Homo sapiens: one gene and its partners. The protein of the gene in region 2 interacts with the protein of the main gene of each other region in a pairwise test. Each region holds a gene or a part of one and is shown on either strand. Other genes may lie near its edges.

What was found.
Region 1: the proteins of EXOC5 (region 2) and TTC23L interact in binary tests that used the Homo sapiens proteins (3 or more experiments, as listed by UniProt).
Region 3: the proteins of EXOC5 (region 2) and RAB4B interact in binary tests that used the Homo sapiens proteins (3 or more experiments, as listed by UniProt).
Region 4: the proteins of EXOC5 (region 2) and BRMS1L interact in binary tests that used the Homo sapiens proteins (3 or more experiments, as listed by UniProt).

The regions. Positions count from the first base shown.
Region 1 is NC_000005.10:34,863,164-34,870,191, forward strand, and holds part of TTC23L (tetratricopeptide repeat protein 23-like), read left to right. Parts: intron 1-1,273; coding exon 1,274-1,399; intron 1,400-3,728; coding exon 3,729-3,906; intron 3,907-4,042; coding exon of another isoform or gene 4,043-4,096; exon of another isoform or gene 4,097-5,741; coding exon 5,742-5,850; exon of another isoform or gene 5,851-6,686; intron 6,687-7,028.
Region 2 is NC_000014.9:57,230,904-57,237,931, reverse strand, and holds part of EXOC5 (exocyst complex component 5), read left to right. Parts: intron 1-565; coding exon 566-594; intron 595-2,111; coding exon 2,112-2,221; intron 2,222-3,899; coding exon 3,900-3,944; intron 3,945-4,048; coding exon 4,049-4,189; intron 4,190-5,182; coding exon 5,183-5,265; intron 5,266-6,216; coding exon 6,217-6,426; intron 6,427-7,028. UniProt on the Homo sapiens protein: Component of the exocyst complex involved in the docking of exocytic vesicles with fusion sites on the plasma membrane.
Region 3 is NC_000019.10:40,788,228-40,795,255, forward strand, and holds part of RAB4B (ras-related protein Rab-4B), read left to right. Parts: intron 1-7,028. UniProt on the Homo sapiens protein: The small GTPases Rab are key regulators of intracellular membrane trafficking, from the formation of transport vesicles to their fusion with membranes.
Region 4 is NC_000014.9:35,857,311-35,864,338, forward strand, and holds part of BRMS1L (breast cancer metastasis-suppressor 1-like protein), read left to right. Parts: intron 1-5,279; coding exon 5,280-5,376; intron 5,377-6,559; coding exon 6,560-6,643; intron 6,644-7,028. UniProt on the Homo sapiens protein: Involved in the histone deacetylase (HDAC1)-dependent transcriptional repression activity. When overexpressed in lung cancer cell line that lacks p53/TP53 expression, inhibits cell growth.

The DNA of each region.
Region 1 (7,028 bases), on a different chromosome or scaffold from region 2:
TGTTCCAACATCAAGGCCCTCCATGAGCCTCTCCTCTCCATCTAGAAGGGTGTGTATTCTCTTCCTATGTCTATTCATATAAGCTCTGAGTTGAGCCACGGAAGAGATTTCACTAGTCACATATTACCTAGCCAGCTGAAGGTTTTCTGAGTCTGTTCTGCTCTTCATTGAGCACCCAAGAAAATCAGTGTTAGCAATGAGGATGAGGGTGGTGGTGGTGGTGGTGGTGTAGTGATGGAGAGAATGGGTGATAATTTAAAGCACAATTTGGCAAACTAGGCTGCACATTGTAATCCCCTGGGGAGCTTTAAGAATTTCTGCTGTCTGTTCCTGCCCCAAAGATTTTGACTGAGAGGCTCTGAGGTACATCTGTTCATTGAAATTTTTAAAAGCCCTCCAGAGATTGTAATTTGCAGCCCAAAACCACTGATTTAACTGATTCTCGATCATTTTAGTTTTTTGAAATGCTCTTGTGGATACTGCCCATGAGGCTGGAGGCCAAGCAAAATAGACAAAACAAGTAGTTCTATAAATCCCCAGAGGGGTACTGTTATATGTGCCTTTCCTCAGAACTGGGGATTCTGACAGCCTGTTGTACCATCTCCACTGGAAAGATGTTAAGGGCATTTGATGTTCACGCATCATCATGAGCACTCTTTGAGCCTATGTGTCCCCAGTCTCCTCTCTACACATCCCCCTCTCTACTTTTTTGGTCCTAATGTTCAACTTGCAAAATCTGATATGTGGCCTTCCTCTGTTATACCCTTAGCAGGGGGCTATTGAAAATGTGGGAAATAGAAGAATGTTTGGGAATTAAGGGGATTTTTGCTTTTCTGCTGTTTGCCTTTGGCCCAAAACCTGCTTTGCTTGGACTTTCTAAATGACCCAGAAAGTTCCTTTCAGCGTAATTAGTTCCTCTCTTTTACCATTCACAGGAACAGGCTTGGGAAAAATGAATAACTATTGTCATGCAGTAGATGCCTCTAAAGGAAATCGAGTGTAATTTACAGTTTCCGCTCACTCCTGCAAACACTGCCTACCTACTCTAGTCTTGGATTCAGGCAACCACCACAGGAAACCCAAGCCCCTGTTCCTTTTCTAAAGAATTCTTGCTTCTTGACAACATAATACATGGAAAATAAAGAACATAGTTAAGTACCCATTTTTAATATTGCTTCACTTTTCCAAGAGCCCCTTTTGTTTCCTTATCACCTGCTGTCCCTGTGCAGTGGATGTTAGTTTGAGTGCTTGCCATTTTCCTTGACTATTTCACTGGCAGAGAAGCCTATTTCAACCTGCAGAAGGCAGAGAGAAACATGAAGGAGCTGAAAGAATTATATAAAGGAGGTGTTTGTGAATTACAAGTCTCTGAGAACGACCTAACACTTGCTTTGGGCAGGTAAGATCTGGGCTTGGAGAAGCTGAGGCTTTTATGAATGAGGCTTGGAATTACATGATATAAGGGAGAAAAATATTTAGAGCAAAAAAACCCAGAAACTCAAATGATAATAAAAGAGGCTCATATTTACCAAATGGATACACTGGGCATTTTGTGTACTGCCCCATTTAATCCTCACAACAGCCATTGAGGTAGTTGGTATGATTATTATTTTATTAAAGGGGGGTGGTCAAGGAGACTGAAGCTGAGGTTAAACAAATTGTCCAAGATAACATAGCTTGTAAATATTGGATCTGTGATCTGAACTCACTAACTCTTAGTCTTCCTTATACTTGCCTCTCACACTCACTCTAATATTGTATTTTTCTCTGAATTGCCACCTATTTTTGTCATGACATGTGACATTTTAGATGAAGGAACACTTAATGAAGACAATTAACTGGAAGCTGTGAAAGCCATGCACAGCATGTACATTTTTAAGGAAAGTTCTGTTCCATATGAAAACAAAGTTCATGGAATTGGTTTAAGCCAGAACAAGATTTAACTGTCTTGCTGTTGACTTAGGGATCCTCTGAGAATCAGAATATTTAGAAATGAATGTGGGCCCATCAGATTATTAGAAGAAAAAGAATAAAGAGTTTACTGTTCCCTAGATTTTTCAAATATCTTTACATCCTTGAAAGCAATCTGTTTCCAAAACTGTAAGCACTTGGCACAGTAGGGTATATGACTGAATAGTAAGTAAATGAAATACATGCGTCATGTCTGCGTCCTCTAAACAACCATGAATCTAGAAGTCAGATGGGAAATGGGGAGATGTTGGAATGTCCAGAACTAAATCAAACTATTGACTTAAGTCCACAGGGCAATAAATTACAGTCTGGTGAATGTCTACTCCTGTCACATAGGGCCTAAAGTTTTTCTGCCTTATGTGAAAGATAGTCTTATTCTTTTTTCAGAAAAACTCTGGTGCTCATTTTGTTCATCCATTCTCCAGTATTTATTGAATACCTTTTTTATGCATGTCCTGTTCTAAGTGTTAGAGTGCCTACTAAGTATAACTACATACTAGACACTGTTCTAAGTGCTTTACATAATTTATTTTACTTAGTCCACATGACAGCCAATGAGGGTAGGTATTTCTATTATTTTCATTTAGATAGTTTTTCATTCTGCCACTCAGGCTGGAGTGCAGGGTGCAATCAGAACTCACTGAAACCTTGAACTCCTGGGCTCAGCCTCCTCAGTAGCTGAGACCACAGGCAAGACACCACCACACCTGGCTTACACATATATTTTTAATTCAACTTAGGAATACAAATATTGGAGTCAGGAGGAAGGAATATTGATTGTATATCTACTATATGTTAGGTGATTTTATACTTAATATTATTCTTCACAACAAACTTGCAGTATAAACTCAATTGTTTTATTTAGAAGGAAATGTAGGCTTATAGAGTTTGAGAAAGCTCATAATTACCAGAACCAGCTTTGAACTACCCATGATCTCATTTTACCTTGCTGTCTCTGGAAAGATAAACCTCAATGAGATATTGTTTTATCCTCATTTAAAAAAATTATATTCCCAACTTTGTTGTGGAAAATTTTGAAAATACAGACAGGTATGAAGAACGAATAAGCCGATTGTGATACCACCACACAGACGTAACTGCTATGAACATTTTGAACAGATATATATGGATATCAATAACTATATCTCTATGTGGATCACAGTCTAAGTGCAGCTTTATATCTTTTTCCTTTTAGCACATTTTTAATATCTTCCCATATCTGTCTAAAAAGAAAACATGACTTTTAATGTCTCTAAGGTATTTTATTGTATGATATGCTATAATTTATTTAATCACTCTCTTGGGGGAATATTTACATTTTTTTTTCTATCCTCATTTTTAACTGAGGAGGAATTCGCCAAATTAAATGGAACAAAACAAAGCAAAAACTTTCTTTGGCCTGAAAGAGAGGGAATCAGAGGTAATAAAATTTTATTTTGATTTTAGAAAGTCTATGTTTATGGGTGAATTATCCCATCTTGTGAATTCCTGGAAGCCATTTTTCCATTTGCTTTTTAAAAAAAATTAGACAACAGCACGACATAGTAATGGGTTTAATGAGTGGTCGTCAATGAAATCTGATGGGTAAAATGCAGGATAATTGGAGTTTATTTACAGCAAGGCTAGATTTTTGAGCCAGCTACCAAGATGATGGGCCTGTGAAGGCCAAATTCTTTAATTCTTGGAATCAGTTCCTTTTGTGTCTGCAAAGTAAGTGGCCTCTCTGTGACTTTCTATTTTCATCCCTTTTCTTGCAGAGCCTCCTTGGCCATCCACAGACTGAACCTAGCTCTGGCATACTTTGAAAAGGCAATTGGCGATGTTATTGCTGCCAAGGGTGATAGGACGTCAGATCTGATCAGCCTGTACGAGGAAGCTGCTCAGATAGAGCAGCTGAGGAGGAACCACAACCAGGCCATCCAGTACTTGCAGCAGGTCAGTGGGTTGGCCAGAGCCCAGGCTGGGTTGCCTTGTTTGGCCCCAGGCTTGGTTCTCAGGGCCAGGGAAGCATGGGCTTCTCAGAAGAACAAGGGCTGGAATTGATTCTGTTTTAACCCTGACTTTCCTCCAGATCCACCTAAGAGCCCTTGATCAAACCTTAAATGACCAGGCCAGAGAACACTGACTCAGGTGGGCGAATGTGCTGTGTCATTGGCTGTGCAGACAGCACTTCCCCCTCCCCCTCTTATCTCTGTTGGTGCTGTAAAAAAGAAGCAAAATGTGAGTCTACTCCAAGGAAAAAAGATACAGGGACAACCGAACTTAAATCTTCAGCAAAAACAAAAGGCCTTTTTAAATGAAAAATCATGGTATTTTAGGGTAATGCTGTCATTTGTACTTTAAACTAGTCTAGCTGATTATATTTCCAAACCTAAGGTTAAACTAACAAAAGGGTGTTTCACTTGGAGGTAACTAACTTGACAAATGCCCGGGGGAAAACAAAACAAAACATAGGAAGGAATGGTGAGTCTATTATATTAGGGTACTTTTATGTATCATGTACTTGAAGCTGCTAAATTCACCTTTTCTCTCTCCGAAGGAGAATGCTGCCTGTGGCTTCAGGTATCTCCCACAGTGACAAACATCAAAATACTGGATATCCTGTATCATAGAAAAGGTGCAATGCAATCTAACAGTATACATGAAAACAGACTCTGAAGAAAAGGCATTGCAAACAATCTGACAGTCCACAATTATAAACATCACACAGTGGAGAGATGTCAGAGAATGCTGCTGTGAAGGCAGGGAGTCCACTGCTTACAGAGAAAGCCAGTCTGGTTTTTGTGTTCAAGACTTTCTCAAAGCAGTGGTCAGATCAGAATGAATAAAACAATAAATAGCAGTGTTTCCCAAAAGCACCAAAAGATAAGAGTTAAAATGTATGGAATGCTTTTTCTACGTTCCCTAGAGGATATATCGATTCATTTAATCTGTACAATAGCTCTATGAAGTAGGTACCATTATTATTTTATCTCATTTTAAGGATGAGAAAACTGACGCACAGAGTTATAGCTAACTCAGCTGACATTGTATAGCTAAGAAATAGTAAAGCAGGGATTTGAACTCCACATCTGACCCTACAGCCTGTATTCATAACAACTCTGCTCTGTGTCTTGGCTCCAAAGTCTTCTCTGATAACCCCTCAGCTCTTTGAAACACCTCACAGTATTTGGCCTATGAAATATTAAGCACAGGTGGTTCTTTTGTGGCTGGTGGGTGTGGACTCAATGTTTTTCTCTTTCTCTTTTCTAAGTGTTACTCCTTCCATTTTAGCACAAATAATATAAAATCTAACACTTTTTTAGTGCTTACTATATGCTGGGTGGTGTTCTAACCACTTTACATATATTAACCATTAATTTATTTAATATTTACAACAACTTTTTATAACAAATACTATTCTTATTATCCCTGATTTACATTTACAAGACTGCCTTCAAGACTGGAGTTCAGTCCAGTGAGACTGAGCTAAGGTTATGACTTTATTTTTGCTATGAAATCTAATAAAAATTATACTAGCCAACATTTATTGAGAACTTACCACGTGATGAGCACCGTGCCCTGTGCTTTGCATATACCATCTCACTTAATCCTTCCCAAACCCTAATCAGTGGGAATTATATATTCCTTCTACGAATGAAGGTGAAATTACTTGCACAAGACTCATAGCTAGGAAGTGGCAGAGCTGGGACTCAAACTCACCTCTCATCTAAATCCACAGTGAACACTGTCATTGGGTGCTTACCTTGTCATGATTTTCTTTATTCCAGGCTCATTCTGTCTGTGTTTCTTTGTTCACTGAAGTCAGCCCCAAAACTGCAGAAATGAGTGCGTTACTGGCCAAAGCTTATGCCATGTCTGGAGAGGCCCAGCACAGGGGTAGGTAAAAGAGGTAGCCTTGAAGTTATTTCCCAGTCACATGAGGGAAGCACATTGGCAAACAGCCTATCTAAGATTCTAATTAGCTATTTATTCCTGTAATGGAAAAATTAGGTGGGTCACAGTCTCATACAAAATCAATTACACATTAATTTAAACCTGATAATATACCCCCACATTCGTTGGAATGTCAGTAACAAATAAATCATCTGATTTCTACATCCTCTATTTATTTTGAATCTCAGTGAGATTCACCTTCTTAACTAATAGATATCACACATACTGTGAATGTGGCCTGTGCAGTATCGGTTGATAAGGACATCCAGTGATAAATGGGTAGAGCTTTACCTCCTCCACTTTCAGTCTCCTTGACTCTTTTCCTCTGGCTGACAAGAGAGAATGTTTGTTAGCAGAATTTTCTTGACCCATATTCAATAGTTAGATACTGGGGGTTGCAGAGAAAGCCAACTGATTAATTTATGCTTCAACAATAGTTCTTTGTCTGGCAAGGTCATCTTTTTGAAAGTGGGTGGCTTTGGGAGAGACACAAATGAACCAATGAGGGAGGACAATGTATCATTCTGTGCTGGCTTGATCAGATTAATGGACACTGATGGATTCAGTGGCCTGTCAGGAGGAATTTAGGCTTCATGAAGAATATAATTTGATCATTTTAAAACTGTCTATTTTCTTTGCTTATAAAAGTAACCTTTTTGTGTATGTTATTTTCCAGTTAGAGAGAGGGACAGAATTATAGAGAAAGCTTTCCATCCTACTTTTTTCAATGCTTGTATTCCCCATGTCATTAAATAAACATTTTTTTTCAGTTTGCAAAAGTTTTGATCTTTTAATTATTTTTTAAGCATAAACATCCATTGAAGACTTCCTGATTCTTTGTTTTTCAGCTAATCCTCTTTCTCCTTTTAAGATTTCCTCGTCTATATTCACAGTATATATTCTCCATACAACTTGAGCTTTTTAAGAGTAGTCTTTGTGGTTACAAGAAATTTAGTCTGTAAATATGTACAAATTTTAGCTTTTTTTTAAGTGAGAAAAAACAAGCGTTTATGTTTATAGAGTTGAGAGATTTCAAGGCCACCTCATTATTTTCTTATATACTAATTTTTAACTTTAAAAATATAGATTTTTATATTATATCATTCACTAAATTCCAGGTG
Region 2 (7,028 bases):
TTGTAAAGATTGAATGGCTACTCTGCTAGGCACATTGCTGGGTCTTATCATTTGTCATTAATATATCATCATATAATATATTATTTGATCATCTTTTTCTTTTGAATAATAATGATGGAACTTTATTTTTAAAAATACCAACCATGGGAATGGGGAGGGAGACAAATAATCAAGTGTATTTAAAATGCCAGCAAATAAAAGTAAGAACAGTAAGTCAGTTTTGGGACTGGCTGGGTTGTTAGTGTCTTATGCAGAGCAGTTGATTCTTTAAAAAGAGAATTGATTTTCAATGTGAATTTCCTAAATGAGAACCAGCTACCTACCTACATTAAGTTTTATCACCTGGCATGCTTCCTATCAGAATTCTCTCCTCTGATTTTGTCTTTTTTCTTTTTACAATAACCTTTTAACTTTATAATGGTTTTGGATTTACAGAAAAGTTGCAAAGATAGTACAGATGGTTCTCGTATCTCCTGCACCCAGTTTCCCATTTGGTTAGCATCTTACATTGCCATAGGATGTTTATCACAACTAACAAACCTCATGGTTGGTTTTTGTCTTTCAGATTTTCAGAAGTTAAATCCAAAATTGCAAGTAAGTGATGTATTTATTTTACCTTTTTTTTAATAAGTAAAAAAACTACTTGTGTAAAAATAAAACAGCAAAAGGAGAAAAAGCAGGAACAATGTCATCTTCCTACCCTAGTAGGCTACTGCATAGAAGATCCCTGAGTTTGATTTCTCTTCCCTCAAAACAACCATTACCAGTTTTTTTGGATATTCTTGCAGAATAATCTATGGATATACAAGCATAAGACATAAATTCTATATATGTGTGTGTGTACATATGTATGTGTATGTATAGATATTTATATGTACTTCTATCCTCATTTATTTTTAAATAATTGCTACCATACTATATAAATAGCTTTATACCTTGCATTTTTAATTTAATAGTGCATTTTGGAAATCCTGTGCTTTCCATACATCTATCTCTGAATAAGATTCTCTCTTTTTTTTTTTAAGATTATATAAGCATTTCAGTATCTATTTAACTCCTTACATGATTAGTTTGGTTCTTGCCAGTCTTGGATTTTAGTTTAGGTTAGATCATTCTAGGTTTTTGAAAAGACCACTAAATTTGCAGGTTCTGTGGTAGCTGGGGTCACTATTTAGAGTAGGCCACTGCATAGAAGATTCAAAGATTCATCTATATTCCCAAAAAGTCTTAGAATAAGGATGACACAGCTAGTTAGACTTCCTGGGAATATTTTTGATCACAATAGATTGGTCTGAAGTTCAGGTGTTCGTTAAGAACCATACTAGCCTCAAGAATATAGTGAATAGGGCCGGACATGGTGGTTCGCACCTGTAATCCCAGCACTTTGGGAGGCCGAGGCGGGTGGATCACCTGAGGTCAGGAGTTCGAGACCAGCTTGGCCAACATAGTGAAACCCCGTCTCTATTAAAAATACAAAAATTAGCTGGGTGTGGTAATGGGTGTCTATAATCCTAGCTACTCAGGAGGCTGAGGCAGGAGAATCGCTTGAACCCAGCAGGTGGAGGTTGCAGTGAGCCGAGATCGCGCCACTGCACTTTGACTGGGTGACACAGAGAAACTCTGTCTCGAAAAAAAAAAAAAAAAGAAAATGAAAAAAATATAAATACTGCATATTATCAGGATGAGATTTGGTGTTCAGTCATCAGTCCACTATTGTTCTAGGTAGAGGCATCAGAACTCTAGTAAAGAGTTCTGTAGTCCTCTTCACCCTTTCCATGTGTAGGATTTTTCATGTGTGTTGCTATCAGAAATAGCATCTGGAGGATTTTTTCCAGTCAGCTACTGGTTTAAGTAACAATGGCATATGACAGTCAGACCCTGGAAAGCTCAGTAATTTTGCCAGTTTGGAAGTTTTTTGTCTTGAAAATATAGATTTATATGCCACAGTATATTACAGGGGCTGGGTTCACGGCCTATAATCTCATTTGTTTTTGTAATTCCTTCAAAAGAAAGCTATATTCATAGTCATTATATTTGTAAATAATGTAGATACTCTTAAATAACGTGGATGCCTTGTATGCCTCAGTGTAGCTGAATGACTTTATTTTTAGGTAAATACCATGATTTAGAATGCCAGCTGATTCAGGAGTTTACCAGTGCTCAAAGAAGAGGTGAAATCTCCAGAATGAGAGAAGTAGCAGCAGTTTTACTTCATTTTAAGGTAAATAGTAGGAATTAAAAATGAATAGTGTTCAAGGCTATGGAAATTACGTAAGTTCTATATATTATAGTCTCTGATTTCCCCCATTCATTATGTAACTATCACAGTGATAATTTTCACTGTTTTGAGTAATTTGTACATTTGATACTCTGTAAATGGTATTGAATGTTATATATTTAATATTTAAGGTTTTATATTCAATAATATTAATATTGAATTAAAATTAATTGATCAATTAAATATTGATGAATTTTTATACTTTGATAAAGAAAATCATATTGTCTGCCTTTTTGCTTCCACATATTATAATATAGGTGAAAAGAAAGAAAACGTGACCGTAAATATCTGTAGGATATAGGAACCAGAGAGTAGATGGAACATGACTAGTAAGAGACTTAAATCCAGGGGACCTCAGGAGGTAATACAAAAGAATTTTGTATTACGGAATTGTTTACCTAGAATTTGAACTCGGGAGAGAATCCCTGTGTAGGAGTATATTTCTGCAAAGAAAGTGCTTAAAGAAATGGTTCTTCCTTCAATCTGTTTCTTTGATTTGTATCAGATTAGGGAAGGGGAAGCTATTTGTTGGACTTTTCATTTTGGTAAAATCTGAATGAGTATTGAGAATGGCTCTTGAGACAGTAGTGCACTTTATATTGCTTTCCTTACTGGTTTTTATGTATGATTTATTAATAGGCAAAAATCTCATTATGGTGAGCTTAATGACAAATCAGTTTGTTTTAAACACATTTTATTAAAATACATTTAGTTTAAAAAGTAAATTTCCAAACTACCAGCTGAATACAACTGTCCAGATTCTTGCAAGGAAAACCAAATGCTAGAGAAGGCCAGGCGCAATGGCTCACTCCTGTAATCCTAGTATTTTGGGAGGCCGAGGCGGGTGGATCAGTTTAGCTCAGGAGTTCGAGATCAGCTTAGGCAACATGGTGAGACCCTGTCTCTACAGAAAATACAAAAATTAGCCGGAGGGGAGGCATGTGCCTGTAGTCCCAGCTACTCGGGAGGCTACAGCAGGAGGATCGCATGAGCCTGGGAGGCAGAGGTTGTAGTTAGCCAAGATGACACCATTGCATTCCAGCCTGGGTGACAGGAGTGAAATCCTGTCTCAAAAAAAAAAAAAGAAATATATATATACACATATATATATATATACACACACACACACACACACACACACACGTATATATACACACTTTAATATATATAAATATATTTATATGTATATAAAACACATACATATATATATGTAAAACCTTTTCCCAAGACCTTGACTCTCTGTGTATGTGTGTGTTTGTGTGTATGTGTGTGGGTGGGTGTGAGTGGGTGTGTTTTGGAGTTGAAGGAGATGGCTAGATGATCATAGGACAAAAATTACTCTAAAGAACTCAGTTACATACTTCATCTTTCTTGTTTTAGTCTAAAGTTCAACAAGGATATGTACCAACTGATAAATTTTATCATAGAAAGTGACTAGGGAGACGATACCTTTATCAAGTTACTGGTTTTCTGCAGTTAATTTTATTTAAGTCCAACAGGTGTTGCTATTGGCCATTTACTGGTAAATAGTCATAGCTTTATGACATATAACACTTCTTTTTTTGAAATAATAATTATTATAATTGAATCAGAATAATAACAATGTGTTTCTTCCTTGTAGGGTTATTCCCATTGTGTTGATGTTTATATAAAGCAGTGCCAGGAGGTAACATAACAGTACACTTTGTTGGATATTATTTTATGCTAATTGTTGTTTTAAAATCATGTAGAAATTATATGTTCACTGTATAAAATGTCTCTGCTGTTTAGGGTGCTTATTTGAGAAATGATATATTTGAAGACGCTGGAATACTCTGTCAAAGAGTGAACAAACAAGTTGGAGATATCTTCAGTAATCCAGAAACAGTCCTGGCTAAACTTATTCAAAATGTATTTGAAATCAAACTACAGGTAATTTTAAATAGTAACAAATTAAATAGTTCTTAAAGCAATATGTAATTTTTTCCCTATATTTTAAAAGTATTTTTAAAATTTAGTTTACTTATGTAATGACCTTAGAAATAGTAATCTAGTTAAGGAGAAAGGAATCCTCATGCTTTTTAAAAAATGTTTTGTATTCACCAAGAAGAAAGTGCTAATCAATAAGTATCATCAGAGAACATGCTTGAAATTTGTGTAGTATTCGTAGTAGTAGTATAATATATTGTGGTAAGATAGCCTTGAAGATTTTTCTTTTTTTTTGGTCCCTGCCTTCACCAATAGATGTCATTTGTGAAACTGAACAAGAATTACAAGAGCAGTCTGTAGAATTTTTAATAATATGGTACTAACCTGAAAAGGGAAAACACAGAAATTTAATTTACCCCCATATCACTGTACTTTCAGATAACATTTCCTAAGCTGTTTACAACTGGATTAAACAACATTCAATAAATGTTTGCTTTTTTTTTTTTTTAACACAATTCAGGAATTTTGATAGTATTGTCATTCTCTAGAAGTGGGGATGTAATGTACAGCATTTCACACATTTACTGTCTAAGAAACCCTGTTTTGGAGTAATGCCTATAGACATCTGAAGGAACACTAGTGTTACCTGGAACTCAGTTTGGGAGATGCTGCCTTAAGGAATTGACTCTATTGTTTGTACTCTCAGTTTTGTTTTTTTGATGCACCTCACAGAGCAGAATAGGCCAATTTAACAGAAAAGGTATTATTCCTAAGACTGATAAAGATCCTCTACAGGTAAATATGAGAAGTGGTAAAATGTAAAAACCTGTTTTAAAATATTTTATGATTGGTTTGTTTTCTGTAATTGCCTTTTTGATTGGATTGTAAGTCAGAAAGGTTCAAAACTGTGGAGTGAATTTTAAAAGAAAAATATCTTGAGAAGTTGTAGAATTTAATATTTACCTAATTAACAGAATGTTAACCTTTTTCTTTTAGAGTTTTGTGAAAGAGCAGTTAGAAGAATGTAGGAAGTCCGATGCAGAGCAATATCTCAAAAATCTCTATGATCTGTATACAAGGTAAATTTTTAATGATTAGAAAATAATAGATAACAGATTTTTTAAATTTTTTTGATAAAAACAAGGAAGTATTCAGGTATTTTTGAATAAGTTTGTCACCAGTTTACCTTTTAGCATTAAATGCTTAGCTGTATAGACTAGTTATATTGTACAAGACTGTATTGTACAACATTCTTAATACATTAACGTCAGGAATTGGATGTTATGCTTTATTTTTTCTCTAAGCATTAGTGTAATTACATTTATCTGCAGTCAAAACTTTAGAAACTGCAAAAGGAAGTGATGTAATCTTAACAAATGACAATTTCAGCTCTAAATCTTCTGTAGGAATTTGTCTTGTGCTTTTGTAAATGTCAGTGTTACTCTTAGAGATTGTCTCAGAAGCTTCATATGGAGTCTTGTGGGGTTTTTTTTTTCCTTGACTTTTCCCAACCCTATTACTCTTCTTCAGTGTCTTCATTTTGGGAGAAGGTTTTTCCAAAGTTACCGTAATGAGGAAGTCCATCTCAACAACAACACTGTTATGACCCTATCTTCAGCAATGGGAAATAGAAAATTAGAGGGAAAGTCCACAAGGACAAAACAAAAGAGGGTGAACAGACAGTAGATCTTTCAGTACTCTGTTTTGGGTCCCATGTGATGAATGGCATTAGACATACTTGAGGCCAATCTGCCACTGTCGCCATTTCTGGACTAGTTAATTGCCTCACAAGTTCTTTTCCTAGGAATTTATAACAGTTCTCAAAACCGTAAAGTTGTTCGTAATATTTCACTGTATTTATATGTAACCCTGTAGAGTTGATCTCTGCATCATAAGTACTCTCCCAGAGTTTAAGAAATGGTGGCTTAACATAAGTCATGAAAGTCACGTTGTAAAAATTTGTATTCCTTAATATTGTTACTATACCTAAAATGTATATTAATCTTTTTCTCCCCCTTTTTCATGAAAAGAACCACCAATCTTTCCAGCAAGCTGATGGAGTTTAATTTAGGTACTGATAAACAGACTTTCTTGTCTAAGCTTATCAAATCCATTTTCATTTCCTATTTGGAGAACTATATTGAGGTGGAGACTGGATATTTGAAAAGCAGAAGTGCTATGATCCTACAGCGCTATTATGATTCGAAAAACCATCAAAAGAGATCCATTGGCACAGGAGGGTGAGTATTTTTGTTAAATACTTCTGTTAAAACTGAAGACATTAATAACTTCATTATATTTGGGCAAATTATCAAATGTTGACTATCATTAGAATTTTCTGTGAAGAGTTCTTTTAATCCAGATTGTTATATTATTGATCAAATCTTGTTCTTAAACCACATGTTGAAATGACCTAACATAACATGATTGAAATGTAAGCCGGGCGTGGTAACTCACTCCTGTAATCGCAGCACTTTGGGAGGCCGAGATGGGCTGATCACCTGAGGTCTGGAGTTCGAGACCAGCCTGGCCAACGTGGTGAAACCCCATCTCTACTAAAAACACAAAAATTAGCTGGGCGTGGTGGCAGACACCTGTAATCCCAGCCATTAAGGAGGCTGAAGCAGGAGAATCACTTGAACCTGGGAGACGGAGGTTGCAGTGAGCCAAGATTACGCCACTGCACTCCAGCCTGGGCGACACAGCAAGACTCCGTGTCAAAAAAAAAAAAAAAAGTAAAGTAGATATTTGTCAATTAAAAAATAATGTTTTAAAACTATCGAGCAGAACACTAGTAATATAAAAAGTTCCATAGTTTCTTTCATTTTTTTTTTTCTCGATA
Region 3 (7,028 bases), on a different chromosome or scaffold from region 2:
GGCTCACACCTGTAATCCCAGCACTTTGGCAGGGTGAGATGGGAAGATCACTTTGAGACCAGGCTGGGCAACAAAGCAACCTTATCTCCACAAAAAGTTTTTTAAAATTAGCGAGGCGTGGTGGTGTGCACCTGGAGTCCCAGCTACTTGGGAGGCTGAGGTGGGAGGATGGCTTGAGTCCAGGTGTTCGAGGCTGCAGTGAGCTGTGACCATGCGCCACTGCATTCCAGCCTGGGTGACAGAGCGAGACTCTTAAAAAAAAAAAAAAAAAAAAAAGTAAAGTATGTAGTAGTGAGGGAGGTAAGAACTATGGGGAAAAATAAAACAGGCACAGATGAGTGGATAGGGTGGAGGAGTGTACTTTTTTTTTTTTCTTTGAGATGGGGTATTGCTCTGTTACCCAGGATGGAGTGCTGTGGCGTGATCTCGGCTCACTGAAACCTCCGCCTCCTGGGTTCAAGTGATTCTCCTGCCTCAGCCTCCCGAGTAGCTGAGATTACAGGCGACTACCACCATGCCTGGCTAATTTTTTTTAATTTTTATAGAGACAGGGTTTCTTTTTTTTTTTTTTTTTTTTTTTGAGATGGAGTCTTGCTCTGTTGCCCAGGCTAGAGTGCAGTGGCACGATCTTGGTTCACTGCAACTTCTGCCTCCTGAGTTCAAGTTGCCTCAGCCTCCTGAGTAGCTGGAACTACAGGCGCCCGCCACCACGCCTGGCTAATTTTTATGTATTTAGTAGAGATGGGGTTTTACCATATTGGCCAGGCTGGTCTCGATCTCTTGACCTTGTGATCTGCCCGCCTCGGCCTCTCAAAGTGCCGGGATTACAGTGTGAGCCACCGCACCTGGCCGACACAGGGTTTCATCATGTTGGCCAGGCTGGTATCAAACTCCTGACCTCAAGTGATCCACCCACTCTTGGCCTACTAAAATGTTGAGATTACAGGCGTGAGCCACTGCGCCCGGCCAAGAATGTACTTTTTTTTTTTTCTGAGATGGAGTTTCACTCTTGTTGCCCAGGCTGGAGTGCAATGGCGCGATCTCAGCTCACCGCAACCTCTGCCTCCTAGGTTCAAGCAATTCTCCTGCCTCAGTCTCCTGAGTAGCTGGGATTACAGGCATGTGCCACCACACCCAGCTAATTTTGTATTTTTAGTAGAGACGGGGTTTCTCCGTGTTGGTCAGGCTGGTCTGGAACTCCCGACCTCAGGTGATCTGCCCGCCTCAGCCTCCCAAAGTGCTGGGATTACAGGCGGGAGCCACCACGCCCAGCCTTTTTTTTTTTTTTTTTTTTTGAGACAGAGTCTCACTCTGTCGCCATGCTAGAGTGCAGTGGCACGATCTCGGCTCACTGCAACCTCTGCCTCCTGGGTTCAAGCAATTCTCCTGCCTCAGTCTCCCGAGTAGCTGGGACTATAGGTGCGTGCCACCATGCCCAGCTAATTTTTGTATTTTTAGTAGAGACATTTCACCATGTTGGCCAGGTTGGTCTCGATCTCTTGACCTCGTGATCCGCCCACCTCAGCCTCCCAAAGTGCTGGGATTACAGGCGTCAGCCACCGCACCTGGCCAAGAGTGTACATTTAAACAAGATGAGGAGGGAAGCCTCGCTGAGAAGATGACATTTGAGTGAAGGAAGGGAGATAGGGAGGCCTGTGGGGATCTGGGGCAAGAGCACTGCTGGAGAGCACAGCAACGCTTCTAGCGAGGGGTATGCCTGGTGTCGGTGAGGGTGACCAAAGCAGCCAGTGTGGTCATCATGGAGGACCTGTGTGTGTTTTGTGGGTACAGCATGAGATGGGGTCAGGGGTTGGAGGAAGCAGATCAGTTAGGGCCTGTGGGCCCTGGGGAGGCCTCTGGCTTATACCCTGTGTGGGAGCCATGGGAGGCTTCTGAACAGAGGAAGGACAGGATCAGATTCAGGGGTGCAGAGAGTTCCTCTGGCTGCATAAAGGGAAGGGGCTGTGAGGGACAGAGGAGGTCACCAGGACACCAGAGAGGAAGCTGCTGCAAAGTCCAGGGAAGATGGTGGAGGACAGGACAAGGGGGCGGGAAGAGGAGTGGCTGAGAAGGGAATAGGGTTCATGTCCTCCCTAGACTCTCTGTCTTCCAGTCTTGGCCTCTCTCTTTTTTTTTTTTTTGGTTCCTGTCTTTTTATTTTGAGACAGAGTCTCGCTCTGTCACCCAGGCTGGAGTGCAGTGGCGCGATCTTGGCTTACTGCAAGCTCCGCCTCCTGGGTTCATGCCATTCTCCTGCCTCAGCCTCCTGAGTAGCTGGGACTACAGGCACCCGTCACCATGCCCGGCTAATTTTTTGTATTTTTTTTAGTAGAGATGGGGTTTCACGGTGTTAGCCAGGATGGTCTCGATCTCCTGACCTCGTGATCCTCCTGCCTCGGCCTCCCAAAGTGCTGGGATTACAGGCATGAGCCTTTCCTTTTTTTTTTTTTTTTTTTTTAATTTTAGAGAGAATCTCACTCTGCTCACTCTGTCACCCAGGCTAGAGTGCAGTGGCGCCATCTTGGCTCACTGCGACCTCCGCCTCCCGGGTTCAAGTGAGTCTCCTGCCTCAGCCTCCCAAGTAGCTGGGATTACAGGCATGTACTGCCACAACCAGCTAATTTTTGTATTTTTTTTTTTTTTTTGGAGATGGAGTCTCGCTTTGTTGCCCAGGCTGGAGTGCAGTGGTGCAGTCTCGGCTCACTGCAACCTCCGCCTCCTGGGTTCAGGTGATTCTTCTGCCTCAGCCTCCCGAGTAGCTGGGACTACAGGTGCGTGCCACCACGTCTGGCTAATTTTCTGTATTTTTAGTAGAGATGGGGTTTCACCATGTTAGCCAGGATGGTCTCGATCTCCTGACCTCGTGATCCACCTGCCTCGGCCTCCCAAAGTGCTGGGATGACAGGCGTGAGACATTGCGCCCGGCCAATTTTTGTATTTTTAATACAGACAGGGTTTTGCCATGCTCGTGAGGCTGGTCTTGAACTCCTGACTTCAGGTGATTCACCCGCCTTGGCCTCCCAAAGTGCTGGGATTACAGGCCTGAGCCACTGTGCCCTGCCAATCCTGTCTCCTTTTGATGCAGCCACTGGGTCTTTCTAACACACATATCTGCTCCTGTCGCTCCCTTTTTCAAAACCATCCATGCATCTCAGGGCCCCAGGACACAAATGAACTCCTCAGCCTGGTGTTTGACCCTCTGCAGGGACTGGCCCCTGCCAGCCCAGCCTTACCGGCCTCAGCCACTTGTCGGTCTCCCTACCTCTCAGGCCACTCCAGCCACACTGAAGTTCTTCCCATTCCTCTGGGCCCTTGCTCATGCTGGGCCTCTGCTTGGAACATTCCTACCCTCTTTTCCCTGGCAACCTCCTTCCTCCAGGCAGCACTACTTGTTCCTCCAGGCTTGGTCCAAACTTTTGTTTTTTTTTGAGATAGAGTCTCTGTCACTCAGGCTGGAGTGCAGTGGCGTGATTTCGGCTCACCGCAACCTCCGCTTCCAGGTTCAAGCAATTCTGGTGCCCCAGCCTCCTGAGTAGCTGGGACTATGGGCATGGGCCACCAACGCCTGGCAAAGTTTTTATATTTTTAGTAGAGACAGGGTTTCACCACGTTGGCCAGCTGCTCACAAACTCCTGGCCTCAAGTGATCCACCCACCTCAGCATCCAAAGTGCTGGAATTATAGGCATGAGCCACTGCACCCGGCCCCAAACTTCTTGACAGGCTTTCAAAACCCTGCAGGATTTGGTCCCATCCCTCCTTCTCTGGGGGATGTGTATGTCTTGCCAGTTCTCCCTTCTATACTTCATGCTAAATCCCCTCCCAGCCCTTGGCAGCTCCAGGGTGGGACAGGTGGGGAACAAGTGGTTAGACCTTGGATCTACTTGGAAGGCAGAGCCAACGTGATTTCCTGATGGAATGGATGTGTAATCTGAAAGAGAGAGAGGAATCAAGGATGATGTCTTCAGACAGTGCTCTCTTGTCTTTCCAGGACTTTGCACCTGCTGTGCCTGAGCCTAAGTTTGCTCATCTGTAAAATGAGGCTAATAATAGCACCTGCTTCTATAGATGTTGAGAAGAAGAAATACATTAATTCACGAAAGTGCTCAGAATGGGGCCTGATGGTCAAGACTTGATCGATGAGGGCTGTTTTTAAAGTTTTCTTCTTATCCATCTTTGGGCTGAGCTCAAATGAATGGGTGTGTCTTCTTCACCTCAGGGCTTAGCAGAGACTCTGTCCTAGAGAGTTTGCCCTCAGTAGGTGAAATGTAACAAGGCAAGGCAAGGCTTTTTCACACTTTGCTGACTGCAATCTACAGGAGGAAATATATTTTATGTGTTAATCAAGGACTGACTGTAGCAGATCCCACCCACATATAAAACTCAAACACACATTTTCCTACCACCAGTATTCTTTCGTTTCTTGGCACTAAAATGAAAGTCACATAACATACATTTACGTGACTTTTCAAAGTGTACAATTCAGTGGCATTCAGTACATTCACAGGGTTGTGCAATCACCACTTCTGTGTTGTTCCAGAATGTTTTCTTTTTTTTTCTTTTCTTTTTTTTGGAGACAGAGTCTCGCTCTGTTACCCAGGCTGGAGTGCAGTGGTGCGATCTTGGCTCATTGCAAGCTCCACTTCCAGGGTTCAAGCAATTCTCCTGCCTCAACCTCTGGAGTAGCTGGAATTACAGGCATGCACCACCACACCCGGCTAATTTTCGTATTTTTAGTGGAAACGGCATTTGACCGTGGCCAGGCTGGCTTGAACTCCTGACCTCAGGTGATCCACCCGCCTCGGTCTCCCAAAGTGCTGGGATTACAGGTGTGAGCCACTGCGCCCGGCCTCAGAACGTTTTCATTACTCTCAGAGGTGCCATGCTTATACTGCTTTGTACCTTATACCTTTGTACCCATATTTATTAAGCAGTCACTCTCCATTTCCCCCAACCCCTAGCAACCACCAATTTGTTTTCTGTCTCTTTTGGCCAATATGATATTCTTTTCCTTTTCCTTTTTTTTTTGAGAAGGGTCTCACTTTGTCACCCAGGCTGGAGTGCAGTGGCACCATCTCAGCTCACTGCAGCCTTGACCTCCTGGGCTCAAGTGTTTCTCCCACCTCAGCCCCCCAAGTAACTGGGACTACTGGTGTGCACCACCACGCCCAGCTAATTTTTATATTTGTATTTTTTGAAGAGATGGGGTTTCACCATGTTGCTCAGGCTGGTCTCGAACTCCTGAGCTCAAGTGATCCACCCACCTCAGCCTCCCAAAGTGCTGGAATTACAGGTGGGAGCCACCATGCCTGGCCTCTTTTCCTTTTTTCTTTTCTTTTCTTTTTTGTTTTTTTTTTTTTTTTTTTTTTTAGATATGGTCTCACTGTGTTAGCGGGGTTGGTCTTAAGCTCCTGGCCTTGCCGGGCGCAGTGGCTCACGCCTGTAATCCCACCACTTTGGGAGGCTGAGGCGGGCAGATCACGAGGTCAGGAGTTCGAGACCAGGGTGACCAACATGGTAAAACCCCACCTCTACTAAAAATACAAAAGTTAGCCAGGCGTGGTGGTGTGCTCCTGTAATCCCAGCTACTCAGGGGGCTGAGGCAGAGGAATAGCTTGATCCCTGGAATCAGAGGTTTTAGTGAGCCGAGATCGCACCACTGCACTCCAGCCTGGGCGACAGAGCTAGACTCCGTCTCACAAAAACAAAAACAAACAAACCAAAAAAACCAAAACAAAACAAAAAAACTCCTGGCCTCAAGCAATCCTCCACCTCAGCCTCCCAAAGTGCTAAGATTACAGGCATGAGCCACCGAGCCCAGCCAACCAATATAATATATCTTTTTAAATTATTATTATTATTTTTTGAGATGGAGTTTCGCTTATGTTGCCCAAGCTGGAGTGCAATGGTGTGGTCTCGGCTCACTGAAATCTCCGCCTCTCAAGTTCAAGCGATTCTCTTGCCTCAGCCTCCCTAGTAGCTGGGATTACAGGCGCCCGCCACCACGCCCAGCTAATTTCTTTGTATTTTTAGTAGAGACAGGGTTTCAACATGTTGGCCAGGCTGGTCTCAAACTCCTGACCTCAGGTGATCCGTCTGTCAGCCTCCCAAAGTGTTGGGATTATAGGCATGAGCCACTGCGCCCGGCCTATTTACAAAATTTTTTTTTTTAAATAATGTTTTAATTTTGTAGAGATGGTGTCTATGTTGCCCAGGCTGGTCTTGAACTCCTGGGCCCAAGTGATCCTCTCTTGCCCTTGCCTCCCAAAGTGCTAGGATTATAGGTGTGAGCCACTGTGCCTGCCCAACCAATAGAATATTCTTATTATATATGATGCACTCTGGTATTTGCCGTTCTGTGCTATTCTGTTTGAATTTAAAAATTGGTCAAGACCCACCAAACTGATTTCCCCACCAAGGCAGTGACACACATTAGAATGACCTGGAGAATTTTAAAAGATACTGATGCCCAGGCCTCACCCTAGAGATTCTGAAGTGGTTTCAGGACTTTTTCTTAATTAAAAGATAAATAGAGATGAGGTCTCACTATGTTGCCCAGGCTGGTCTCAAACTCCTGGCCTCAAACGATTTCTCCCACCTTGGCCTCCCAAAGTGCTGGGATTAAAGACGTGTGCCAGGCTGGGCATGGTGGCTCACGCCTGTGATCCCAGCACTTTGGGGGGCTGAGGCAGGCGGATCACAAGGTCAGGAGATGAAGACCATCCTGGCTTGATCTGTAGATCAAGTGAAACCCCGTCTCTACTAAAAATACAAAAAAAAAAAAAAAAAAAAAATTAGCCAGGCGTGGTGGCAAGTGCCTGTAGTTCCAGCTACTCAGGAGGCTGAGGCAGGAGAATGGCGTGAACGCAGGAGGCGGAGCTTGCAGTGAGCCTAGATCGCGCCACTGCACTTCAGCCCAGGCAATAGAGCGAGGCTCCATCTCCAAAAAAAAAAAAAAAAAAAAAAGATGTGAGCCAGCCAGTTGCAGGATTTCTGGAAGCTCCCAGGTAATGCTATATACAACCAAAGT
Region 4 (7,028 bases), about 21 Mb from region 2:
ATATGTTTGTTGTTAGTAGGTAATGTGTGTATATATTTTTGAAGGCATAGCCTTATAATTTATAATGAAAAACAGCAGTCTTCTGTCCTATTTTTAAATTCTGTATCCCAGTGGCAATTATATTTCTAACTTGTGTATCAGTTGCTTCTGGAATTTACCCTCATATTCCTTTCTTAAAAAAAAATTTTTTTATAGAGATGGGGGTCTTGCTATATTGCCCAGCTGGTTTTGAACCCCTGGCCTCAAGTGATCCTCCTGTTTTGGCCTCCCAAAGTGCTGGAATTATAAGTGTGAGCCACTGCGCCTGGCCCTCATATTTCTAAATAAAGCAGTTTTAGACATTATCTATTGGTTTCCTATTATGGAAGCTGAGGATTTTTCTGTTTCATTCTTCTAATACTGTTGTGTTACAGTTTTTGTTTTAAATTATAAATATTGTTTACTGAGTCAAGAGTTACATTATGTTTAAAATTTTTCTTGTGTATTTTTTTAAACTTTGGAATTAATAATTGCTTCATTTATTGTTTGTTAGTTTTCTCTGTGTTTATCAATTCTTCCTACAGACCTTAGCAGATCTATGAGGGCCTCCTAATGCTGTTTTTTTTTTTAATTAAGCTAAACATGTACAGTTGTATTGATTTTTCATGAAGCCTGAGTATTCCACAAAATAAAGAGCATGTTACCTAATGGACTCAAGAAAAGTAAAAAAAAAAAAAAAAGCACTGGACCTCTCATAAGTTTTCAACTGTATGAAGATTTAAACTCCTGTCCAGTAAAGGTCAAAACTGCTTCTCGTTTTAAAGTTAGGTGTAAACAGTGTCTTCTGATGACTTCTAGAATGACCTAGAAAACCCCCTCATATTTGCTTCTTTCAGACACTGAAGTCCTAACGCTGTTTTCTCTGCGATCAAACTTATCAGATAATCCATCAGCCTCATTTTCTTCTGAAGGGCTCCCTCCTGGAAGCAACCCCTCTATCCCTCGTGTCCCCTATCCTCCTGCTCCATCTTTCATTTGGAGGCCAGCTGCATCTGTCTTCTTGGGGCATCTCTTTACCAGCAACCTGGATGTCCCCTTCACCTCTCCTCTGCTAGCATCTTATTTTCTCCTTAAGTTTGGTAGAGTGTATCTTTCAGTAGCATCCTGACAAAGGATTTCTAGAAGTTAGTTTTTTGAGATTTCTTGTATTGCTTGTCTATTGCTTTATAATTAATTACTCCAAAACTTAGTGGCTTAACACAACAATAAACATTTATTATTTTGCAGTCTCAGTGGCCAGGAATTTGGGAGCAACTTAGCTGGATGGTTCTGGCTCAGGGAATCCCAAGAAGTTGCAGTGAAGATATCAGCCAGGGATGCAGTCATCTCAAGGCTTGATTGGAGGCTGGAGGATCCGCTTCTAAGGTGACTCACTCGCAGGCTGGCAAGTTGTTGCTGGTTCTTGGTGAGAAGCCTTAGAGAACCCATGTGAGAACATGGGCCTCTCCACAGGCTGATTGAGTGTCCTCATAACCTGGTACCCAGGTTCTTCCAGACTTAGTGATCCAAGATAGCAAGACAGAGGTGACTGTTTTTATGGCCTAGATTTCTGCCAGATTTTGTTCACTAGAAGTCAGTTGCTATATCTTACCCATTTTTTTTTTTTTTTTGAGATGGAGCCTTGCTTAGTCACCCAGGCTGGAGTGCAGTGGTGCAATCTCGGATCACTGCAACCTCCACCTCTTGGGTTCAAGTGATTCTCCTGCCTCAGCCTGCCGAGTAGCTGGGATTACAGGTTCCTGCACCACGCCCGGCTTATTTTTTCCTTTTTTGTAGTAGAGACTGGGTTTCACCATGTTGGCCAGGCTGGTCTTGAACTTGTGACCTCAAGTGATCCGCCAGCCTCAGCCTCCCAAAGTGCTGGGAGTATAGGCGTGAGCCACCGTGCCTGGCCCATCCTACCCGTATTCAAGAAAGAGTATTAGTCTCTACCATTTGAAATTAGGAGTATCAAAGGATTATTGGACATGTTTTAAAACCACCACATCTTTCCTGTCTGAAAACATCTTGACGCTCACACTTAAGAGTATGGAATTCTAGATAGAAATCATGTTTCCTCAGAATTTTGAAGGCATTGTTCCATTATCTTCTAGCTTCCAGCGTTGCTTTTGTAAAGTCTCTTACCATTTTGATTCCTGATCCTTTGTACATGACCTGTTTTCTTCCTGAATACTTTTAGGATCTTCTCTTTATTCTTGTCTTGGTATTGTGGGATTGTGAGATGATGTGCTTTGATGTGGTCTTTTTTCGTTCATTGTGCTGGATACCCAGAGGAACTTTTGATTTTATGTATTTATTTATTTGAATTTTTTTTTAAAGAGACAGAGTCTCGCTCTATTGCCCAGGCTTGAGTACAGTGGTGCAATCATAGCTCATTGCAGCCTCCAACTCCTGGGCTCAAGTAATCCTCCTGCCTCAGTTGCCTGAGTAGCTGGGACTACAGGCCCACGCTGCCATGCTTAGCTAATTTTAAAAAATATTTTGTAGAGATGGGGTCTCACTGTGTTGCCTAAGCTGGTCTCAAACTCCTGGGCTCAAGTGATCCTCCTGCCTCCGTATCCCAAAGTGCTGGAATATAGGTGTGTGCCATTGTGCCTGACCAGATGAACTGTTTAATAAAAAAATTCGTATCTTCAGTTCTGGGAAATTTCTTATATATTGTTTCTTTAATATTTTCTTTTAGCTTTCATTTTATAAATTTAATCCTTTAGTCCATTTACTTTTATGTGTAATGTAAATTGTATAATGTAAAGCAAAAAATATTCAGGATATAGTTAAAATCATTTTTCTTTTTTTTTGAGACAGAGTCTTGCTCTGTCACCCAGGCTGTAGTGTAGTGGCATGATCTCGGCTTACTGCAACCTCCACCTTCTGGGCTCAAGCGATTCTAGTGCCTCAGCCTCCTGAGTAGCTGGGATTACAGGTGTCTACCACCATGTCTGGATAATTTTTTTGTATTTCTGGTAGAGTAGACAACGAGGTTTCACCATGTTGGCCAGGCTGGTTTTGAACTCCTGACCTCAAGTGATCCACCTGCCTCAGCCTCCCAAAGTGCTAGGATTACAGGCATGAGCCACCGTGGCTGGCCTAAACTCATTTTTCTCTTGTCATTTATTGTCAGATTCCCAGATGATTTAAAAAGTCACCTTTGTCATTTCCGCATAGCCAGAGTCTGTTTCTAAGTTTTAAAATTCTACTCTGCATTTTTTTTATTCCAGTGCAGTATGCTTAAAAAAAAAAAAAAAAAACTATTGTAGCGTTTTAATGGGTCACTCTCTGATAATAGCCTATGAAAATCTTCCAGGGCTCCAGTCCTGATAGAAGTTGAGAATTGTGAGGTATGTTAAGTCAGGGAACTGCCAAAGAGGAGTTGGTTCTGAATACAGGTCAGTGTGAGGTCGGTACAATAATGGAAGCTTGGGGCCACTTTCCTGGGGCTTTTTAAAGCTCTCCTGATGAGAAACAGCATAGGCGTCAGCCTGGGAAAGGGGTTATTAGTGAGCAGGATCAGTAAGTCTAGATGTGAAGACTAGAGGGATGTGGGATCTTGAGACCAAACCTATACTTATGAGTAGTATTTTTTTAAAAACCAAAGTAACTATTGAACATAGAAAACTCCACAGCCACCAAAGCAAGAGAGTTAGCCCCCTTCTTTTCCAGGTATCTTCTAGCTGTTCCATTAGGGCTTCATTTTCCATTCAGGGGAGGTTTTTGAGTGTCTTGAGAAGCTGGAGAAAAGGGAGAGAACTTTCCAAGAAAAAGAAAGAGAAATAAGAATGAGAATGGATTCATGGCAGTTTAAAGTATACTTCTGATATTTTTAGAGATGCCTTCAATGCTTCAAACATTTCAGTTTCATTGTGGCTTTTTAAAAAATAATAAAGAATGATTAGTGGATTTTTAAAAGAATTTCTGCTTGGCCTAATTTGTCAATAGGAAGAAAAGAGAATACACCAATTAAATGTTCATATCCTTAACAGCAAAAGGCTTATCACTCCAGCTCTGTATTTAGAGTCATCTTTGGTTGGGGAGATTGGATCTATTTATAGCTGCTACCACGGTCTTGTGGAGGGGAACTGCTCTCCCTTTTTCTCTGATATTTTCCGAGTTTTGCAGCACAATATAGATAAAGCTGGAATATTTCATAAGACTTTACTAAAGGCAAGGGAACAAGCAAAAGGAAGTAAGCAGAGAGAACAGCATGCAATGAAACCATGTTTGATATGAAATCTAGTTTTAGTTTTCAGCTTTGCTTTCTCCTTAGCACCTGGCTTGCCTCAAGTTTGTAAGCCATCTTTTCCCTGACACTCAGGAAACCCTTCAAGCATGTATAATTTCTAAATTTCAGACTCAAGAGAGAGGGCTTCATGATTGACACCAGGAATGCAGCCTACATGGGTGTGGCCTGTGTTTTCTACATGTAGTCATATCCAACTATATCCCAATAGCTTCCGCAAGACAGTCATATCTGCTATATCCAATTATCTAATATCCTTCACTAGAGGTAAACATGTGGCCATAGGTTTTTTTGTGTAATTGATCTTTATATATTATGTACATTTTATGGCTTTTTAAATTAGGGCTACAGTATTATATAATTAAAAACATGGACTAGAGCTAGTAGACCTGGGTTCTAGTCTATTTGCCAGTCTTGTATGTTGTAGCAATTCAATCTGTCTATGGTTTTGTAGAAAGATTTGGATATGATTAGTCTGTAATTTTATAATTTAGACTATAATTGAATTATTTTAAATAATCATAAAATTTGTACTTGAATCTTTCTCTTTGCCTATTTTAATATGATGCTGAGATATTAGTGAGGCATAATGACCCAATTATTATTCCTGTGAGAAAATATGATCCATTTTATAATGATATACTTTATAGGATAAGTTTTCCATGATGGTGACAGATGGGACCTACTTAAATTTAAAAGGGGCCATAGGGGTTTGCTATGAGTTTTTTATAAAGTAAATATTTACCTCTAAATGTACATCAGACATAATTTAGATGCTCTTATACAGAATGTAATTGCATGTAGTTAAATCTATATATAGATTCTATATTTTCTAGTTTTATTTCTTTCATGTATTTGACATTTCTTCTTTAGAATTTTTAATTGAATTGAAAAAGCAAACCAAAGCATCATATATTAAAGTACTTTAAGTTATTTGGTACTCTTAGTTAAGATACACCAATTTTTTTCTTTCTACTTAAGTATAATCTGTTTTTCTCCCCAGAGCGAAAAGCTGTTGCTATATGATACAGTCCAGAGTGAACTAGAGGAGAAGATAAGAAGGCTTGAAGAGGATAGGCACAGCATTGATATTACCTCAGGTAAGGAGAATGATATGATTGTGATGTTTGAGTGGCACCAGACCTTTGGTTTACTGTAGTGTCATATCGTATCTCAGTCTTCTAATATTAATATTATGTAAATGAAATGTCCCAGCAAAGGAGAAAAGGGGAAGAACTCTAAAGTGATGGTGATTATATTGTTATTGTTATTTGAATTCACACTTTAGAAAGATGTAAAAAATGGAGCACACGACAAGGGACGAAACAGAAGTATGACAGGAACCTACTGGCAGAATAGTGTCAGGGCTGGATGTGGTGCTGCACATCTATATCTACAGTCCCAGCTATGCAGGAGACTGAGGCGGAAGCATCCTTTGATCCCAGGAGTTCGAGATTGCAATTGCAGTGAGCCATGATGGCGCCACTGCACTCCAGACTGGGCAATCTTGTCTCCAAAAAAAAAAAGAATAGTATTGGAAATTAGCTATAGTATATGTTTTTCCTTGTAAGTCTTGAAAGACTGTTATGTGGAAGAAGGAATGAAAACCTTTTTGACATCATACAAGGTAGGACAAACTGATAGAAGTTATAGGGAGGTAGATTTTTGTTTCAGAAAAAGGAATAACTTATTAATGATTAGATCAGTCCAGTGTGAAATTGGCTTTTTCAGGGTGTTACAGAAAGGTTTTTTGCATTGAGTGGAAGGTCTACTAGGTTATCCTACAGTTCTTGAGTATATATTACTTTATCTGTTATAAAGTTTAGTTCTCTATAGGGTAGGCATGGTGGAGTCAGATAAGCTGAGCTCTAGTGCCAGTGCTCCCTCACCTACTAGTCTGGTGACCATGGACAGTTACTTCACTTTTCTAAATCAATCTCCTTGTCTGTAAAAGGAAAGTAATAAGAATACCTACCTCAGTGGTAGCTTTGGGGATTAGGTGAGACAATGCATGTAATATACATTTTACAAAGTGCATGACAATATGGTAATCAGTTCTTAGTCATGAAGTGCCAAATTGATTTTTGCTTTAATAAAGGCAGAGCAAAACTTAAACACGTAGTGCTCATGAAATTATGTACAGCTTAATCTATATATACCCAGCTGCCAATGAAGTTTTTTACGTTTTTACATGTAACTAAATAGCCACCATAAAATTAGAGTCTTTTTTCCTCCTTTGTTCACCAGAAACCCACTAATACTTAATCTTTATTTACCTGCCAGAGCTGTGGAATGATGAGCTTCAGTCAAGAAAAAAGAGGAAGGATCCTTTCAGTCCTGACAAAAAGAAGCCAGTTGTTGTTTCAGATATCCTTTTCCAAATTTTCTGTTTTTTTTTCCTTGATGTGCGTTTTTCCATTGTGCATGCCTTTATAACTTTTATTTGTAAACACTGACTTTATTTGCATGATCCTGTAATAAGCAAAAGATGATTTATTTATAAAACCGATTGAAGACAGAGGATATAGTGTATACTTTAGGTCAGGAGAGGTGGCAGAGGAGAAGAAATTCAATCATGATCTCAACTTTGAAAATTAATGTGACTTGTCGTTCACCAAGGGCTTTGATGTGAAACAGTCGTTTAGTATACAGTATGATTGTTTAATTCTCATGTGTACTTTTTTTTTCTTTTTGAGACAGGGTCTCACTGTGCCACCTAGGCTGGAGTGCAGTGGCACAATCATGGCTCACC